2 linked regions of the Homo sapiens genome follow. The protein of the gene in region 1 purifies or fractionates together with the protein of each later gene. This does not show direct contact. Each region holds a gene or a part of one and is shown on either strand. Other genes may lie near its edges.

Region 1 (3,754 bases):
GTGGCTGTTTAGGCTGGGTAGTTGGAGGCTTCGTCTGGGAGGCAGGAAAGCGTGGACAGGCCACCAGGCCAGGCACCTGCTGTGCAGGGCCTATCCCAGTGGGGCCTCAGGGTAGCTCTGCTGGTGAGCAGGGCTGAGCAGCTTCCAGTGGGTAAAGTAAGCAGCTGGAGGTCTCTTGTCAGTGGGTGCATGCTGGCTCTCCCAGGTGGGGGATGAGGCAACTCACCATCAATATAAACTCCAGACGCCTGGCAGACTGGGGCCTTGGGTTGGGGGTGGGCTTAGTGGCCTCATCAGAAGAGCGGAAGGTCTGCCCCACAAGTCTGGCCTCCGAGTACTGTTCCTCATATTCTTCTGAAAAATAGCACAGTGGAGACACACACTCTAGGGTGCCATGGCCGAGCGCTGGGCCGGGGAAGGGCCATGAGCCAGGACTCCTGCTCTAGCTGCCAGGCCTGACTTGCATTTTCTTTAGGCTATTTCCAGGTGTTTGAGCCACTGGATTTGGAAATGGAAAAGTGCTTGCTTCCCAGGACCATGAGGATCGAGGAGAAGAGAAAGTCAATAAATTCATGCTGTGGTGGTTTGGGGACCAAGCCCTTATCTCAATGATCCCCACCTTGAGTGCTCAGTTACGAAAAGAGGCTCAGAATGCAGACACCTTTTGCTACTTTGGACTGCAAGTTCCTCTCTTTGAAGCCCTGCAGCTCTTAAGGTTTTCTGCGACCCTACCAAGGAAATGACCTGTGTGAAGCAAGAAGAGATTTACACCAGGAAGTCCAATCTGGAGTTCTTTCTTGGATGTCAAGAACTTTTACTTGAGCCTTTGTGGGCCGTGTTCCCTGCACCTTAGTCCCGCTGTAAGTGATGTCAGGTCTAGGAGGGCTAAGGTGAAGGAGAGGGAAGGAGGAGGTAACAGCATAAAAGAGGCAGAAGTTCAGCGGCATCATCAGTGAGTAAGGATGCACAAGATTTGAATAGGGTTGATTGAAGTGATGAATTTGATGAGAATACATGAAGAAAGTGAGAGTAGAGAAGGGACATTCATGCTGTATGTACACTGAACAAAGACTCAGAATCACAGAGATTTGGGGTTGCTCTTGGGGTTCTTTGGTCCAACGCCTCATTCTGTGCCCAGACTCCCTCCTCAGCAGCCCTTCTAGGTGTTTCTTCAGCCTCAGCGCACACACCTGCAGGGAAGGGGAGCTCCCTCCCTCCCAAGGCAGCTCATTTCTTCCACGGACAGTTGGGGCTGTCAGGTGTGTCAGAAAGTTCTTCCTTATCTGGAGGTGGAATGTGCCTCCTTCTGGGTTTCCACCCACTGGTCCTAATTCTGCCATGGTAGCAACACAGAGCACATCGACTCTTTTTCTGTGTGGCAAGTCCTTTGTTATCTGAACACAAGGCTCATGGTGTCCCTTGGCATCTTGCTTTTCCAAGGTCACCACTGCCCTGGTAGGGGGTGGGGGTTATGGCTGTCATCCTGTTGGTGGCCCATCAGCAGTTTTCTATTCGCCATTAGAGTTAACCTTTATTAGTATAGATAAAGGAGTGCTGACAAGACCTCTTTTCATGCTCAACATCCACTGAGCACCTCTTGGCAGGTGGGGAGGGAATCCAGCCTTGTGCCAGGTGCTTCTGGAAACCTAAGGGTAGCAAGATGTGATTCTTTACATCGAGAAGCTCAGGCTTGGTTAGGGGGGACAAAATAGGTGACCTCTGGGTGCTGTGTATTGGGCTTACTTTGGTGAGGCAGTAGCTATCCAGGGGTTATTGCAAGAGCAGAGTGAGTGAAGCCCAGAGTGGGAGATCCTGCAGATGCCCCCTTTGTCTTCTGGTGCCAGGATCCCAAAGGCATGGGCGATGTGGCAAGAGGGGGGCTGGAGGGAATGTAGGCCCACATTGTGGGAGTCTCCCACCCAGCTCTCGGTGAATGGCATAACTTATGGCCCTGCCTCAGTCTCTGTCCTTGTTTCCCCATGGGCTACTGAGCTGAAAAAAGGGGCTGGGGATGGGGGGAAACAGCCCTGGAAATAGCCTCTTTCAGAATCATTAGGCTGAAAGGTGAAAGCTGGAAACTGCTTTGTCGATTGTTTTTAAACTCTCTGTCTTTATCTTGCTGGTCCCTGTCCTCTTTCTTCTTTGCCTCCCTCCTGCCGCTGCGCATCTCGCTTCTGGGCTCCGGCCGCAGCCCCCCTCCCTCTCGGTACCTTGCAACAGGCTCTGGAGATTGAGCTGCGCCTCCCGAAGCAGCTCCTCTACACTCGGGGGCCTGCCCGAGGAGAGGAACACGTTCACTGGCTGTCGCCATGACGACCTCGAGTGGGCAGTCGCTGTCGCATTTTCCCGACCCGAGTTAGCTGCAGCTAGGGAAGGAGAGAGTCAGTGAGAGGCGCAGGCGAGCTGGAGGGGAGCGGCGCGCGGCGGCCAGTGGGCGCCCGCGGTTCCCCAAGGCCCGCCCCTGCGTGGGGTGGGGGGAGTGCGAGGCTGCGCTTAAAAGGCGGGGAATCGCCGGCCGCAAGATTTTTCCTCGACAGATCCTGCCGCAGTCCGCTCCCTCCCGCTCCGCTCGCCCCTGCCCGCCCGCCCGCCCGGTCGCGCGGTCGCCGCCGCCACCGTGTCGCCCGCATCCTCCGCCTGGCGCCTCCGGGCCCCGTGCCTCCGCCCGCCCTCTCCGGCCCCGGCGACGAGGTAACGCGCCCTGGGCCGAGCCGCCGGGCCCTCCGCCCAGAGCGCCGCCCTCCGAGCTCGCCCCGGTGGGTGTGGCCCGGCCTGGCCCGTGCCCCGCTGCCGCACTTCGGTCCCTCCCGAGCCCCGCCGCCGCATTTCGGCCTCCTCCGGCCGCCCGTAGTTCCAGTTCCCCTTTCCCCACCACGGAGCCCCAGGGCCCCTGGGCTTGTCGAGATGTCTGAGGCGTCAGGAAATCTCAACAGCCTCCGCATGGCGAATGTGGCCCTGCGCGAAGAATTAAATGCCCTTCGCGGGGAGAATGCCAATTTGGGCCTCCAGCTCGGGAGAGCCCTGGCCGAGGTTAATTCCTTGCGGGGCAATGTCTCCAGCTACATCCGCTGGCCAGTACCCATAGTGCCCGTCCTTGCGGAGGAGAACTTGGAGTTCGCGCTCAGTGAGATCGAAGTCATTCCCGGGGGAGAACTGCCCTTCTTGTGCCGGCCTCCCCCACGCGCGGAGCCCGACTGTATCTCGGATGATCTTTTGATTAACGTGATCCAGGATCGCAGCACCCCCGACGGGCCCGCTGACCCCCCTCTGCTGCCCATCCCGCCCCCGCCGGCGCTGCCTCCGCCCGCGTCAAAGGAACCGCCCCCGCAACCCCCTCTGGCACCGCTGGAGCGGCCTGAGATAGAGCCCTTTTCAGGAGACCCAGTCTACCTGGCTGAATTCCTGATGCAGCTAGAGACCTTCATAGCCGACCATGAGGTTCATTTCCCCGGGGGCGCCGAGCGGGTGGCCTTTCTGATCTCCTTTTTCACTGGCGAAGCCAAGGACTGGGCCATCTCGGTCACCCAGGAAGGAAGCCCCTTGCATGCCAACTTCCCGCGCTTCCTGGATGAAATCCGTAAGGAATTCTGTGGCCCCATCCCCCCACGTGTGGCTAAAAAGGCCATTCGCAAGCTCAAGCAGGGCCACTGTACCCTCGGCAGCTATGCAGATGCTTTTCAGTTCCTGGCCCAATTCTTGTCTTGGGATGACTGCCGCCTCCAAAACCAATTCCTCAAAGGCCTGTCGGAATTCT
Region 2 (3,754 bases), on another chromosome or scaffold:
TGTAGTTTTGAATTTTACCAATATATGAAATTATACATAAAATTACCATATAAAGTAATATTTAACAAATTATATACTCAAAGTATAATTTTCCATTTGTCTTAATTTTAATACGTATTCAACATAAATGAGTACAATATATTTAACCATGTTTGACACTCTTCTTTTATCCCTTTTTAATACAATCACCACAACATAAGAAAATTTAGGTTTCAACTGATGTTAAAGCACATTTCTGTATCTGGTGGTTTTTAAAAAAATTACATATTATATATTTGACATTTTAAAAGACAACAGAAACAAATCCACAGATTACTCCACCTTTACCCCCACTTTCAGCTGAAAGGTTTTAAGAAAAATCTTGCAGGTTATGAGGACCAGATGGAGCTTAAAAACAGATCCGGAACTTTTTTTTTGAAATTGTATTTACTTTTTTTTTTTGTATCTCAAGAATACTTAAAGGAAAAAAAAAAGGGTTCTATGAGCCAGAGGAATTCCCAATTCACTTTGAAATTACCATACCTATCTTGCCATATCAAACATTTCAATTCTGTTAACTAAATGAACTACATAATATCCTTAAAAATCAGCCAGAGAAGAGAAAAACAAATCTCGTCTTCATTATTGACTTTGAACCAAAACTTATTCTTTCAAAGGAGTAGTTTAACCTACTAAATATGTCTATTATAAGATCTTCTTTCTTAGAAAGTAGTATTCCTTCTTTTTCATTCCTGAAATGGTATTTCTTACACTTAAACAAGTTATGGACAATTGTTAGCTAAGTATCAGTTATGATAAATTGCTAAAATTAAATTATCTGTTTAAGGTACATATAACACATTCCTATAGCCTTTAAAACTGTATTTTCTTTCACAAAAATTTAAATAAATGTGAAAGTAGGCAATCACTAGAAGTCTCATGGTACATAAACTTTGCATCAACTTTGACGCCAAATAAGGATGAAATTTAGCGTACAAATCCTCCGTTCACAAAACAGTGGCAAAAATTTATATTTTTAAATTGGTATAATTTTATGCATTCTCAAACATTTACTGGGAATATTCAAGTTTACCTAATTAATCACCCAGAAAGCCAGCAGTACTGCCAAAAGCTCTTGGTATATTCAGTAGTCACTGTGAAAACTTTTCATTTCTTTACCATTTGGCAATGGCTCAGTTTCTATTTTCCAATTATGTTTTGGAATAAAGTCTATGACCATTAACTATGCATTTTTTGTTGCTATCTCATAGCCCGTGCACTGTACATATTTACAGAGAAAAAAATAAAGGATTGAATTTTCTGTCCATTCATTCATTCACTTATTTGACCATTTGGAGCCATGTAAGAAGCTCACAGACTCAGAAACTCTTCAGCTCTTCCTCAGACTCAAATCACTGTTGGTCACTAATGCTGACAAAGAAGTACTTTCCGACGCATCATCTTTCCTTAGGTTCAAAAATGATTCTCGAGTTATTTGAAGGATCTCTCTCAAGCCTTTGTTTTCTTGCTAAAAGGCAAGCAAAAACAAAGATGCAGTCACTATCTACAAGGTAGCTACAACATCACAAACATATGTTAGGAAAAACTGAACATATGAAGGTATAACAAACAAGCAAGGTCTGTAATTGGCATTAATCTACTCAATGATATATGCAGTTGGCAACTTGAATCTAAAGAACACTTATGCAGCTAGGAATCGTGTTCAACATCTTCCACCACTGCAAAGCCTTCTTACTTAAGCAGCTATAATTGTAAACAGAAGCTCAGAAATTGCCTTATTTTACAATCACATTAGAGATGAAGAAAATAACATCTAGATTTATTTTTATATAAACTCGTAAAGCCAGTGAATAGGCTAGAATCTCCTAGTAATTTTTAGTATTTTTATTACTTTCCATGATAGCATGGAATGTAGGACAAGTTTAGCTCATTGGCATTTGAGAGCAGCAGGGTAGGGGTAGCTGATGATATTTTTCAAGAAGGAAAGTAAGTGACCAAATCTGGCACTGGTAAATAACTTTGCTTTCTGGCCTCCTTTTGGTTAGTTACTGTAAAAAAATTTGTAGACATTTAACAATAACCTTTCATAATTTGTTCTCTATCACTTTATCTTCAGTCTCACTTTCTAAATTTTAGTAGTCTAAAGCAGGTTCCCCGCCGTGATTTCAAAATGAAGCTCTTAAGGCATAAAAGTCTATTGTACTGATTTCAGTTATTCAGAGACTGGTACTTTCACTGTCATAAAATAAAGGACAGATGACAAAGGTTTTTAGAATCCCCAGAAAAATAAGAGTGCCCCTAAATATTTGTGGATTAAAAAAAATTTCCCTGTATCACTATGATCTCTAATAGAATAAACAAAATTTTAAAAATGACTCAATTGAAGAAGTACATTCACTTCATAAGATAAGCAATATAGAATGAAACATCAATTTTCTACATTACTGGTATATTGTAAGTTACTAATAATCCTAGATTCTTGCATCACCACATAAATGGTCTTGCATAATATGCCCACATAGACAGCATCCAGGAGAACATTACCAGTACCCAAGAAGAGTAAATATATATTTAAAAATGGGATATATTTTCTGGCATAAATCTTTATATGGACAGTTTTCATCTACATTTGCAATGTAAAACTTACTTCAAGTTGAAATATTCGTTCTTGTTCCTTGCAACCCTGTTGCTCGTCAATTTCAATGGCTTTCCTCATTACTGCTGCCATTTCAGTTATCTGGTCAACATGTGCTTGCAGTTCCTGAAAAAGAGGGATGGGAGTTGGAAATCAGCAAAATACTTTTTTATTTTTGGATCCTCTCCTTTTTATAAAATCTGCAGTACCACTTAACATGAATATTCTTACATTGTCACTTAATATGAATAAAACAAATATTAACAATGAAGTTGGTTGACCACAGATGTGCTTTTGAAATCAAATTTGTTAGGACTAGAATTAAGAATAAGCAGCACAATATAACTAAACCTAGCAGCAAGAAAAATACTCATATTTTACATTCCTCTCACCACAATGATCAGCAACTTTTTCTTTTTTTTTGCACTTACATACACTATTGTTCAAAGTAACGGGAATGATAAAAATTGCCGACGCATTCAATCTCTTTTCCTCCCTGAAGTCTTCAATGATTTAGAAATCTTTTCTGTATTGTTCAGGCCTATAAAGTTATCTCAATCCAATCTGTAACCTTTTCTAGGTCATAATCCTCTTTGAGAGCAGGAACTGCATCTTTACATCCACCTACTATCTAGTGTATGGTATATGGTAAGTATTGAATAAAATGAGCACAATTCTGCTTTTCAGTATTAAAATATTAAATGGCCTTCTTTGCTAACTATTGAAAATATAGTATCAGTATAATACAGACATCCACATTTGTTAGGCGCAGCAAGTAGCATAAATTCTTCCAATCTCATTTTCTTATCTTGCACACCTATGATGTGCCAGTACTATGCTAAACAACAGGAATACAAAGACTGTCAAGACATGTCCCCTGATCTGAAGAAGCTTACAGTCTAGTGAAAGAGACAGACAAAAAAGGTTTAAAATCAACAGAAACTCGAGAATAATCATTTTCTCAATGAACAGCTTCTATAGACCATTATTCACAGCAACTGAGAGGTATTTTATCATATTAAGCCTAAGACTTAAATATAAAAGTGAATAACTCCCCAAATAAACAGTCTCTTCAGTAGTTGTGTATATATATATTTGTAAAAAGGATTTAACAGTACT

Evidence for each region. Proteins that work in one complex are often made in the same cells at the same time.
Region 2: the proteins of NHSL2 (region 1) and FGFR1OP2 purify together in Homo sapiens (affinity purification with mass spectrometry; 2 studies listed by BioGRID and IntAct, with this or other methods). This does not show direct contact.

The regions. Positions count from the first base shown.
Region 1 is NC_000023.11:72,130,691-72,134,444, reverse strand, and holds part of NHSL2 (NHS-like protein 2), read right to left. Parts: coding exon of another isoform or gene 2,905-3,754; exon of another isoform or gene 2,530-2,904; intron 2,367-2,529; coding exon 2,211-2,366; intron 355-2,210; coding exon 227-354; intron 1-226. Other genes in the region: RTL5 (retrotransposon Gag-like protein 5), read left to right, coding at 2,905-3,754.
Region 2 is NC_000012.12:26,962,349-26,966,102, reverse strand, and holds part of FGFR1OP2 (FGFR1 oncogene partner 2), read right to left. Parts: intron 2,762-3,754; coding exon 2,648-2,761; intron 1,508-2,647; coding exon 1,370-1,507; 3' UTR 1-1,369. UniProt on the Homo sapiens protein: May be involved in wound healing pathway.